Regions from separate parts of the Homo sapiens genome. Here regions 1 and 2 are each linked to region 3. Evidence: fine-mapped expression QTL. A gene starts in region 3. Each other region holds a variant in brackets. All regions are shown on one strand. Distances are between the middles of the regions. Region 1 overlaps ANO10 (anoctamin 10). Region 2 overlaps SNRK (SNF related kinase). Region 3 holds the start of SNRK-AS1 (SNRK antisense RNA 1).

The links. PIP is the estimated chance that this variant, and not a neighbour inherited with it, causes the effect.
Region 1: its variant is the best candidate, but not a certain one, in a credible set for the expression of SNRK-AS1 in thyroid (GTEx, PIP 0.66).
Region 2: its variant is the best candidate, but not a certain one, in a credible set for the expression of SNRK-AS1 in whole blood (TOPMed, PIP 0.74).

The regions. Positions count from the first base shown.
Region 1 is chr3:43,488,286-43,492,532 of GRCh38, reverse strand. The region is part of intron 11 of ANO10 (anoctamin 10); the gene reads left to right. Among named protein-coding and RNA genes, the nearest start is that of ANO10, 130 kb to the left of the region's middle. RefSeq lists an enhancer at 1,173-1,673. The variant T/C (reference allele first, on the strand shown) is at 2,006.
Region 2 is chr3:43,317,399-43,321,645 of GRCh38, reverse strand. The region is part of intron 3 of SNRK (SNF related kinase); the gene reads right to left. Among named protein-coding and RNA genes, the nearest start is that of SNRK-AS1, 32 kb to the left of the region's middle. The variant T/C (reference allele first, on the strand shown) is at 2,230.
Region 3 is chr3:43,349,971-43,354,217 of GRCh38, reverse strand. It overlaps SNRK-AS1 (SNRK antisense RNA 1), which reads left to right and starts at 2,256. Exons shown (of 3, transcript NR_046757.1): 1 at 2,256-2,620; 2 at 2,837-2,887; 3 at 4,241-4,247. SNRK (SNF related kinase) reads right to left here. Exons shown (of 7, transcript NM_017719.5): 7 at 3,075-4,247.

The DNA.
Region 1 (4,247 bases), 140 kb before region 3:
TTGCAAAAATATTCTCCCATTCTGTAGGTTGCGTGTTGACTCTGATGATAGTTTATTTTGCTGTGCAGAAGCTCTTTAGTTTAATTAGATCCCATTTGTCAATTTTGGCTTTTGTTGCCACTGCTTTTGGTGTTATACACATGAAGTCTTTGCCCATGCCTATGTCCTGAATGGTATTGGACAGGTTTTCTTCTAGGATTTTTCTGGTCCTAGGTCTTACGTTTAAGTCTTTGATCCATCTTGAGTTGATTTTTGTATAAGGTGTAAGGAAGGGGTCCAGTTTCAGTTTTCTTCATATGGCTAGCCAGTTTTCCCAACACCATTTATTAAACAGGGAATCTTTTCTCCACTGCTTGTGTGTGTCAGGTTTGTCAAAGATCAGATGGTGGTAGATGTGTGGTGTTATTTCTGAGGCCTCTGGTTTTTTCTGAGGTGTTCTGGTTTTTGGAATTTTCAGCCTTTCTGCTCGGTTTCTCCCCATCTTTGTGGTTTTATCTACCTTTGGTCTTTGAGGTTGGTGACCTCAGTTGGAAATGCAGAAATCACTCATCTTCTGCTTTGATCTCTCTGGGAGCTGTAGACCGGAGCTGTTCCTATTTGGCCATCTTCCAACCTTTATGTTTTAATTTATGGTTATCTTTTCACTTAAAAACGTAATAAATTATGTTGATAGTGTTGCTAATTTTAAGCTATCTCTGCATTCCTGAAATAAACCATGTTATATTATTATATTATATCATATTCTGTATATTTTTCTGTTAATTTGTTACTGGTGGTGAATCCATATGGGTTTGCAGCAACTTCAGTTCTTGCCTCTTCAGAAGGATTTGACCAAGGGGTAAGGCAGAAGGAGAGACCGAGGCAAGTTTTAGAGCAGGAGTTAAAGTTTACTAAAAAGCTTTAGAGTGGGAATGAAAGGAAGTACAGTACACTTGGTGGAAGAGGTCCAAGCAGGTGACTTGTGAGATGGAGTGTGCAGTTTGACCTTTGACTTAAGGGTTGTTTGTTGTTTTTTCTTGGAGATGGAGTTTTACTCTATCCCCCAGGCTGGAGTGCAATGGCGCAATCTTGGCTCACTGCAGCCCCCACCTCCCTGGTTCAAGCGATTCTCGTGCCGCAGCCTCCTTAGTAGCTGGGATTACAGGTGCCTGCCACTACGCCTGGCTAATTTTTGCATTTTTAGTAGAGATGGGGTTTCGCCATGTTGGCCAGGCTGGTCTCGAACTTCTGACCTCAAGTCATCTGCCTGCCTCAGCCTCCCAAAGTGCTGGGATTACAGGCATGAGGCCACTGTGTCTGGCCTGACTTAGGGTTTTGTATGTTGGCATACTTCCAGGGTCTTGGATTCCTTCTGATTCTTCGCTTGAGGTGAGATGTCCACATGCACAGCAGCCTACTAGTGCTTGGGAGATGAGCATGCACAGTGTGTTTACTGGAGTTGTACGCATGCTCACTTGAGGTCCTTACCAGTCAAATGTCCCTGGAAGGTCATATGCCATTTAAACCCCGCCCCCCTGCCATTCTGCCTCTTAATATGCATGCCTGAGCCCACTTGTCCAACTCCTGAGATCTTATCGGGAAGCTGCTGCTCACCAGTTTCAGGTGTTCTCTATCTATTAGGAGACTGCCTTTCCCTGGCACCGGCTGTGGCCAATTATTATTTTAGAAAGAGAGTCAGCAACCGCCTGACCATCACCTGATGGTCACCTGACATTCCAGGTGTGTGTGTGGGGGTGGTGCTGGGAGCACCCTTCTGCCCTCCTCATGCCTGACTAACTACCTACTGTAACAAATTCACTTCTGGGTTCTATTTGCCGGTACTTGATTTAGAATCTTTGCATCAATATTTGTAAGTGAAATTGGTTTCTGTTTTTCTTTGTCATACTTTGGTATTAAGTGTGTTCCGGCTTTTTAGAATGAATTAGGAGGAGCCTTCCATCTTTTTCTATGGTCTAGACCAGTTTGAGTACATAGCAAGTATCTGTTCTGTGATGATGCCTACTGC[T/C]CTATATTAATAAGGCTGTGGAGTATTACTGAGTTTTTAATCTTCACTATTATGATCTTAAAATATGACCTTGTTTTAAAAGGAGTCCTCTAAAATACTTTTCTTCCCCCTCTTCCAAGTTGCCAGGTTTTTGGTTATCTCATTGTTTTGCTTTTTATTTCACTTGTGTTTAGATAAAAAGTTTTTAAATTTCACATTTTTAGGCTGGAAACTTATTGCAACAGGAGGGAATATTTAGAGAGGAGAGGAACACACACACCATGCAAGACTTTTGTTGTGGCGTAGTTGGAGATCTGAGAAGGGGAAGGAAACTGGATTTATCAGAAAGAGGGAGGCCAGGGCTAAATGTCAAAGCCTGGCTGTAGCCCTGTCTCCTATAAGCTGAGTGACTTTACGTAAGCCTTCTCTGACTTCAGGCTGTTTTTCCATCATCCATGTATCACGTTGAGAACGGCCTGATGTAATTGCTGTGAGGATCAGAAGAAATAATATTCAAGGACTTCTGAACCCTTAAGGCATTATTTTGATGCAAAGGATACTGTTACAGGCTTATTCTTTTCCAGTGATTCGTTATAACAGAATACTTCTTCAGTGAAAGGAGATTTTTATTTGTAAATGTTTAGATAGTTGTTGATTTTTGTAAGATAGTTTTTTTTTTCTTAAATCAGGGCCTCTAATGGTCATGAGATAAAAAACAGGTTTTAAATTTTACCCCTTGTTTTTTTCACCAGGCAAAGAGACTGTTTTGTAGCAAACTAGTCTTCTAGCTCAAAGAAAAGAAAAGAGAAATATTTTTTTCTGCCATGCACTTTCAATACCAGTTAATTGAACTATATGTTCTGAGCACCTGAAATGAAATTATTGACGAATTCATTCTGTCTAACTGTGTAATCTCCTAGTCTTATTGTGAAAACTTGCTGCATCCTCTTGTGCCCCTTGTGTCTTCCTTCACTGGTCACCCTAAGGGCCAAGGGAGAGCTTTCCCCTTGGCCCTCTAAAGGTTCACTGAAAAATCAACTTGCAAAAGGCAGATTAATAGGAGAAAAGGCGGATTTATTTAACGTGTACATGGGAACTTTCAGAATGAAGATCCAACCCCTCAGTAAGGTACAGAAGCTTATATACCACCTTAAGGTTATAAAAATAATGCAGGCTCAGAGAGTGGCCAAAAACAGATTTTTTTTTAATTTTTATTTTTTATTATACTATTATACTTTAAGTTTTAGGGTACATGTGCACATTGTGCAGGTTAGTTACATATGTATACATGTGCCATGCTGGTGCACTGCACCCACTAACTCCTCATCTAGCATTAGGTATATCTCCCAATGCTATCCCTCCCCCCTCCCCCCACCCCACAACAGTCCCCAGAGTGTGATATTCCCCTTCCTGTGTCCAGGTGATCTCATTGTTCAATTCCCACCTATGCGTGAGAATATGCGGTGTTTGGTTTTTTGTTCTTGTGATAGTTTACTGAGAATGATGTTTTCCAATTTCATCCATGTCCCTACAAAGGACATGAACTCATCATTTTTTATGGCTGCATAGTATTCCATGGTGTATATGTGCCACATTTTCTTAATCCAGTCTATCATTGTTGGACATTTGGCTTGGTTCCAAGTCTTTGCTATTGTGAATAATGCCACAATAAACATATGTGTGCATGTGTCTTTATAGGAGCATGATTTATAGTCCTTTGGGTATATACCCAGTAATGGGATGGCTGGGTCAAATGGTATTTCCAGTTCTAGATCCCTGAGGAATCGCCACACCAACTTCCACAATGGTTGAACTAGTTTACAGTCCCACCAACAGTGTAAAAGTGTTCCTATTTCTCCACATCCTCTCCAGCACCTGTTGTTTCCTGACTTTTTAATGATTGCCATTCTAACTGGTGTGAGATGGTATCTCATTGTGGTTTTGATTTGCATTTCTCTGATGGCCAGTGATGATGAGCATTTTTTCATGTGTCTTTTGGCTGCATAAATGTCTTCTTTTGAGAAGTATCTGTTCATGTCCTTCGCCCACTTTTTGATGGGGTTGTTTGTTTTTTTCTTGTAAATTTGTTTGAGTTCATTGTAGATTCTGGATATTAGCCCTTTGTCAGATGAGTAGGTTGCGAAAATTTTCTCCCATTTTGTAGGTTGCCTGTTCACTCTGATGGTAGGTTCTTTTGCTGTGCAGAAGCTCTTTAGTTTAATTAGATCCCATTTGTCAATTTTGTCTTTTGTTGCCATTGCTT
Region 2 (4,247 bases), 33 kb after region 3:
AGGGCACTTGACTTTAGGAGGTCCCTGTTACCTATCAGCTGACAGCTGGAAATACGAATTTACTGAACTTGCTAGAATTATACGTAAAATTAACTAAATAAGGGTCTGAGTGAGACCCTGAATGACAGCTACGAGCAAAATACATGAGCTTTGTACATGCACTTAGGACAGTCCATTTCATCTACCAGGAGTCTTTATTTGCTTGCCTCCTGGTGCTCTCCTGGGTTTAGGACAACTCAAAAACTGGTAAATGATCAATAGGCAGTCCTCTAATTGGTAAGATTCATGGATAGCTAAGGATTCTGAAGATTGTTTATCTTACATAAAGTAACATAAAAACAATTTTGGAAAGACTCCTTACCATAAGAAAAGCTGTCCCCTTTGTTCTCCTGACAACAGCTGGAAGAGTCAAAGGTTACAAAGTCAGGGGACACTCAAGTTCTCTCTCTATTCTTGCCTCTACTAATTAATAAATTCATTTTGATACTGAAGCTAGATGGTAAACCCAAGAAATTCTTATGAAGTTGTTTACTGACACTGATAATACAGCCTTGAATGGGATACAGGGCAAGGTACCTCACCTCACAAACTGATAACTGAGTACAAAACTAGAACTAATCTAAAACCAAGAGAATCTTCTGCCTCCAGATGGAACATAATGGGTTTCAGCCAAATGAAGGTTCTGCTATAATAACTTAAAAAAAAAAAAAAAAAACCTTGAAAAAATCATGTTTGTAAAGTTTTGGGAGTAACAGGAATACATGAGCTAAAATTCAAAGTCATGAAGAGCCCTTTCTAGATCTAAAGCAAAAATTCATATAAGAATCTTAAAAGTGTGACCTCAGGAGTTTCAATGGATCACAAATGTTCCTAAAAATGATTAAACCTAATCAACTTACATTATGCACTAATAAACAGGCTTTTTTGGTAGAATATCTTATTAAAACTCTGAAAATAGGTAAATTTGGGGAAAAAAAAAACCCAGCTACTCTGATACAATACAAGCTTGGCGTTGACTAACATTTAATACGTCTCATTGTAAATCAACTGATTGGTGTTCTAGTGTATTCATTAGTATATATACAAAACACTTTGTTAAGCCAGTTTCAGTCCTCTAGAAACTAATCACTACTGAATACAAAGCTGAGAATCACAACCTGGAACGTGGTGATGAATCAGTCACACCATCTCAGGGGCTTCCTTCCACCTACTGGAGCTCCCAATCCATGTTGTTTCTCTTAAACCCTAACAAGGGCCTCCAAATGTCAGTGGAGAGTTGACGCATACGAACTCTGTTATACAAAATGGGTTTTTAAGAAAACCATATAAAATATACCAAACATCTACAAGTCTGTCTGACTTTAGGAAATAAAAAGAATACTGTACCCAATGACTTGATGTTTCCTTTGGAAACAGACCCATTTATAACCTTACCTCCAATTTTCCATTACAATCTCCTACTCAAGTCATATCCATGAAATTTAAAACACAATAGGGAAAATGGGAGATCTAGTATATAAAACAGCAATGAATGAGTCACGTATTCAAAGGCACAAAAATAAGAACACTATTTTACATGTGTATTTTATGTTCCAAAGCTTATTTCAAAACTGTTTGTGTTCATCCAAATAGTTGCGGGTCCACTTGTTTCTCAACCTCATAAGCTTGCAAGATCAGATCCAAAAAAGGGCTTCATAGTGTTCAATAAACACCTCTGAAACTAACCCAAAATGCATGTTTGTATCTCTCTGAAAACAGGAATCACAGCTTTCACTGGGTCCTCTAAGAGTCTAGGACTCATTAAATATAACAGATACAAGGCAAGGAAAAGGAATTACGACATCAGCAAAGAGATTGGGAAGAGCCACAGAGGGTGACCACAATTAATGTAATCTTCATTTCCTTGGTTCATCTCTGTTAACATTAATTTAAATAAATATTATGAGCTTGTTACGTTTGCCAGGTGACAGGACACTGACAAAATATAAACAAACACATGGTCCCCTCTCTCAAGGACCTTACTATTGAGCAAGGGGGACAAGTGAGCCATCTGGAGTGAGGCAGGCTTGGCACCGCCCCATCCAATTCCAAAGAGAAAGAGCAATCAGGGCATGCATTCTCCTAACTTCATCATCCTCCTTTTTTAGCCATCCACAGCCCCTCTTTTATTTTTACACCCAGCAAAATAGTATGCCTACTCTGTGCCTGGCTGCATTCCAGGTGCCGAGA[T/C]TTCGATATATCTACGAAGAGCGTCTCACTCTAAAAGGTCTTGTTTTCCGACTTACCAGATACAGTATTACAAAGGCTGAGAACTTGTAATGTTTTTTCTTAGGTTTCAGAGTTTAAAATAATTCTAAATTAAAATTTTAAAAATATTAAATTAGGCACTGTTTACACTACACTAGAAATACTTTCTTATTACAACCCTATATAAGGCTAATAGATCAACCTGATGACCACACATGCAACCTCCTAACATGCTGGGACAGGGACTCTCCAGGAACTGAGACCGGTCACTAACTAGTCCCACCTGGCCCATCTCAGTGAGCACAAGAGAGTGATCAAGCATAGCAGCCTGCATATAAACAAACAAACTGATTCTTTTTTTTTTTTTTTTTGAGACAAAGTCTCGCTTTGTCGCCCAGGCTGGAGTGCAGTGGCACGATCTCAGCTCACTGCAACCTCCACCTCCCAGGTTCAAGTCATTCTCCTGCCTCAGCCTCCTGAGTAGCTGGGAGTACATGCATGCGCTACCACGCCTGGCTAATTTTTGTATTTTTAGTAGAGATGGGGTTTCATCTGCTTGGCCAGGCTGGTCTCGAACTCTCCTGGCTTCATGTGATTCACCTGCCTCGGCCTCCCAAAGTGCTGCGATTAAAGGCATGAGCCACCACGCCGGACTCGATTCTTTAGTACATTCTAAAACGCTAAAACAACTTTTAACAGTTCAGTCTGTTCGGCAACATGCAATGCGAATAACACAATTCCAAATTTGTGTTAGAAAGTTTGCTCTAATGCTGATTTTTTTGTCTTGCAAACTTATCTTTCTTCTTCAACAGGCATACATTTCTTACCTCAAAAAGTTTAAAAAAAAAAAAAAGAAAATTTAATATTTTCAACTCCCTAAAGGTTTCCCATGTTATGACCTAAGGTGAATGTAAGTTGATTCAGCTTCCATATGTATTTTTGTACTAAAATAGCTACTGTTTTGAGTGGTTTGAAAAGCCCTTCTGAAGTTCTAAGAAACTAACCTGCTATCAAATAAACACCAAGACTTTCATTTTTTTTTATCTAACATTTTAAAAAAGAAAGAAAAATCCCTACTTTAGAAGTTAACCTATTCCCTAAATACAAATAACATAACATTCTGAAAGTTAAATACAACTAAAAACATGTGAGAAAACCACAGGAGCAAAGGTCCCAGGCCTGCCCTTCCTCCCCATTTTCCCACGGCAGCCAACATTTCAGAAATTCCCGAGGACAAATTTCCAAAGGGGACAAGGGTACCTCGGATACTCTTCCTCCCACATTGAGAAAGAGGCAGGAAAGGAAAATAAGGCCAGGATCTAATGTTAAGTGTCCCTCTGGGACCACAGCAGCAACACCATAGAAACATAAAGCATCCCATGACGTTTCCCAAAGCAGCAGCACTGAGACAGTGACATCTGATGGACTGAGGGCTAATTTTGTGTCTGGCGTTATGCTAAGTACTTTACATGTATTCATTCATCTAATCCCCTCAATAATCCTAAAGGCAGGAACTATGAACCCCATTTCACAAATGGAGGTAACAGAGCCCAGAGATGCAAGTCAAGTGGGGAAAGATAACAGGCAGTGCTGGGGCCCTACACCTCTGGAGAAGAAGCTGAGGCCTCACTGAGGGGTGACATGTGGGCAAGAAAATCAGGGGCAAGAGTGGCTAGGCAGAGGAGGGAGATGGATGGCCCTGAGGTAGGACCGGGCTTGGAGTGTGCCTAACAGCAAGGAGGCAGCGTGGCTGGAGCCGAAGGAGCAACCAGGAAGGTAGTGAGAGGAAAGTCTGGGAAGAAATGGAGATGCCAATCTTTTGGGCTGTGTTGGCCACAGTGAGGATGGTGGTTTTGATTCAGACTGAAATGGAAGGTCTCTAAATAGTTTTCAGCAGAGGAATAATATGATCCAACTTGAATTGTACAAAGAAAGGGTAAACATTGTTTTCCTTATGAGTAAGGGTTACCTGAAACTGCTACCTCAGTCTGCTGACCCAA
Region 3 (4,247 bases):
ACAACTAGGAAACCAAACAAAATATATGGAGCAATAGTTTCCAGACATTGAGCAACAGACAGCATAGGGCTGTCACCCCGAGAGAAGGGAGGCAAATGAGGTGAGCCCTGAGTTGAATGCCCCAGCTCACTGCCCAAAGGCAGTTGCCAGAACACAGAGAGGGAAAGCCCAAATAGTCTGGTTGAGTTGAGCAGGTAGTTTGAAGTTCAAGATCAATGTGCAGGGCAGAGAGGAGGGAGCTGCACAGATAGTGAGCAAGCTCCAAAAGAAAATCTGTGGTCTTTGGTTGAGTACTGATCAGTACTTATGAGAAAACTACCTGAGGCTGGAGAAAGAACCACTGGAAAGCAGCAGGCTGAACAATGCTCAGAACTTACCCAAGGCTGGTAATAGTTCATGTTCCTACCAGCCAGAGTAGAAAAGCCTCAATAGAGTCCCTAGAGAGGTATTGCCTCAGTAGTGGGCCAAATTAGCCCTAGACTGAAGACTGCTCAGGATCTGCCCTAACAGTTTAAAAGTGAGACATGAAGGATCCAATGATTTTAAATAACTGCAGTCCAAAATGAAATCCAATACTTCTCACACGAATACAAAAAATTCCAGCATTCAACAATGCAAAATTCAGTGTCCAGCATTGCAATAAAAATGAATCAAGAATTTTTATACCCAATGATAATATCTTTCATAAAGGAAAAGTAATTTTTCAAAACAAAAGCTGACAGAATGTAATGCCAGCAGATCTGCATTATATGAAATGTTAAAGAATGTTCTACAGGCAGAAGGAAAACCAAACTGTGGATCTACACAAAGAAATGAAGAGTGCTGCAAATGACAAATATGTAGCTAAAATACTCCCCCCCCCCCTGTTTAATCCCTTAAAAACTAGTTAAAACAATATTTATACATATACAAAAATAAAATGTATGACAACAGTAGTATAAGGAACAGGAAGAGGAAAATAGAGGCATACAGTTGTAAGGTTTTTATATTCTACATGAAGTGATATATTAAGATAGACTGTGATATAATAAAATACATGTATTGCAAATCTTATAGCACCCCCTGAAAAACAAGAGTTACAGCCAATAAGCCAATAGCGGAGATAAAATGGAGTAACAAAAGGTGCTCAGTTAAACCAAAACAAGGTAGCAAAAGAGGGAAAAAGAACAGACGAGACAAATAGAAAACTAGGTAGGTTTAAACTCAACCATATTGACAATTACACTAAATGTAATACATCTAAACCCTCAATCAAAGACAGACATTTGCTGATGGGATAAGAAAGCAAGCTCGAACTATATGATATCTGCAAAAAACAAACTTTAAACATAAAGACACAATAGGTTAACAGTAAAGAATGGAAAAAGATATATTCTCACAAGTCAAAAAAAAGCTGGAGTTACTGTATCACTATCACACAAAGTAGATTTCAGAACAAATAGTTTACCAGTCATAAAGAAGGAACATTTCATGAGGAAAGGGATCAATTCATTGATATGACGTAACAATCTTAAATGCTTATGTACCAAACAACAGAGCTTCAAATTTTCTAAAATAACACTGCTAGAACTAAAAGGAGAAATAGACAAATCCACAACTATAGTTGGAGATTTCAACACTCCTCTCTCAATAATTGAGACAGAAAATCAGTAAGAATATAGAAAACTTGAACATTATCAACCAACTTGAACGAACTGACATGTATAGGACACTCCACCAATAGCACTTTCCAAGCACTCAGGAAACATTCACCAAGATAGGTCGTATGTTGGGCCATAAAACAAGTTTCAGTAATTTCAAAAGATTTAAACTATAGAAAGCATGCACTGATAAAAATAGAATTAAACTAAAAATTATAGAAACCTATGTGGGAAAACCCCAAATATTTGGAAACTAAACACGTTTCAAAACATGGTATGATTTAGCCTTTAAAATGATCTCTCATACTGCTAAGTGGAAAATAAATGAGAAAGACAAGGGCAAATGCAGGGAAACCCTTTAAGAGGCATTTACAGTTGAGTGTCATGGACTAGAGTGGTAGTGGTGGTGGCAATGAGAAGGAGTCAACTGTGAAAGGCAAGTTAAGATTTGCTCATAAACTGAATGTTGGGATGAAAAAGTGGATGACACCAAGATTTTCAGCTTGAATGAAACTATTGAAGGCTAGGAGTTGATATTTATTAAGATGGGTGCGCTAGTAAAAGGATTTGAGGGGAAAGATTAGGGGTTTTGAACTTGTAAAAATTGAGATGCTGTAGACACACAGACACATCCAAGAAGAAAAGTCAAATAGATAGTTGAAATCCAGTGTTCCCAGGGTATGTGGGCTAAATATATTTTGGGCTTCTATCAGCATATAGATACTAGACTAACTGAGATCAGGAGTCACTGCAGATAGAGCAGGGGTCCAGAATTGAACATTGGGACATTCCAAATTTAGAGGTTGGAAGAATGAGGAAGGACCAGTGGACATGAAGAGCAGCAAGGCAGAAGTGAGATACTGAAAGATGGGAAGTTCATAAGGAAGAAAGTGAGCAATTCATCAAATTCTAACATGGGATTGAAAATTGATCACAGGAAGTGGTTGCATGAGGCTGGAGTAAAGGGAGTTGCGGACAAGGTAAAGTATGCCAAAGGGCACAAGATTTCTTTGGCGGGCGGGGGGGGGTTGTAAAAGTCAATTATGGTAATGGTTGTGAGAACTGAGTAAGAGTAGCTGACCTTGGAATCACAGTAACAGGAGGAAGGGCAGAGCATGTGAATGTGTATGAAGGAAGGGAGGAAGGCAGAGGTGGGAACTTGTGGCAGTTCTCATTGCTTCCCTTTATTCAATTAGGCAGCATGGTGACCAGCAGAGTGAGGAAAGGAGATGAAATAGAGAAATAAAGTAAGTATACTTAATGGGCACCCTGGCCCCACCTATGATTTGTAGCCATGAGTTTAAACATAATAATGACTGTACTTTTTCAGCCAAATCTGGTGGTGCAGGCACAGGGCATGGAGAAGGCTGGGTCTAACTGAGGTGGGATCACACAAAGCTACACTCATGAGAAGCAATACAACACAGGACACGGTTTATATTGCTGAACACCAATATGTCACTTTATTATTTGGATTTTTTTTCCCATTTGTCACATACCTGTCAATGTTTACACAATGAGGGAAATCAACCAGCATTGGAAGCAACTGACCAAATCAGTTGATAATTCTGTACCCTCTTAACACACATCAATTTTCACTTGGTAGGGATTATCTTTAATTCGGTCTCACAGCTATTCTTAAAATTGGTGTCAAGATTGTCACATCTTTAAATACAGATAGAATTGCCAGAAGTACATAATTATATATATATACACACATACAGAAAAATACAAGACTGTTTTTCCACAATATTTAATTTATACACTACTGTAACTATATGCAACTTTTGAAGACAGGTTAAGGGGTACAAGTAACTGTTTAGAGCAAGTAAGTAGTTTGGTCCAATATTATCTTAATGTAATGGTTTTTCGCTCCCTCCCTTTTATGTGACGACATACTATGACATACAAAACATGCACAATCATTCACTTATAAACAAAGGAGTAAGACACCACTCAGACTGACATTTGTATACCCCAAGGGTCAACCACACAACTAATAAGGCTATAATACAGCTATGCAGCATAAATGGTCAACACTGCTGATCCTAAAGTGAGCACCATATATACATCTGAATATAAAAAACCATTGAAACCAAACACATATGGGTTAGTTAAAAGGTGCCATTCCAAGGCTATACATAATCACAGGAAAAAGTATTTACACTGCTTGGAAAACAGCTGCAACAAAGAGTTTATTGCCAATGCCCTTTATAAACTTCTCTCCTATGTTTAATACAGATGTTACGCTCACTATCTATGTGAACCACACATCTTATTTCTGGCCCTTTATAAGATCCCTGCTCAAGAATTTCAAGCAAATATGTTCTATGGCTTCACCCACACATCTATTCTCATAGCTTTCAAATTATAAATATCACAATGAACTAGAGCTGTAGCTTAAAACATCTAGCCTAGGTCTAGAAAGTAAAATAAGTATTTTAAGTATCATTTTTACTTAGTTTAGTAAGTATACTGTGAAATTCAGAGTTCTGAGTAAAATATATTTATCCTAAAGTAGCAGAGTCAGTGTGTACTTGAAGAAACAGTGACCACAGCAATGCAGTTCTTTGGTGATGTGCCCACTCTCTGAATTACAGGACCAGA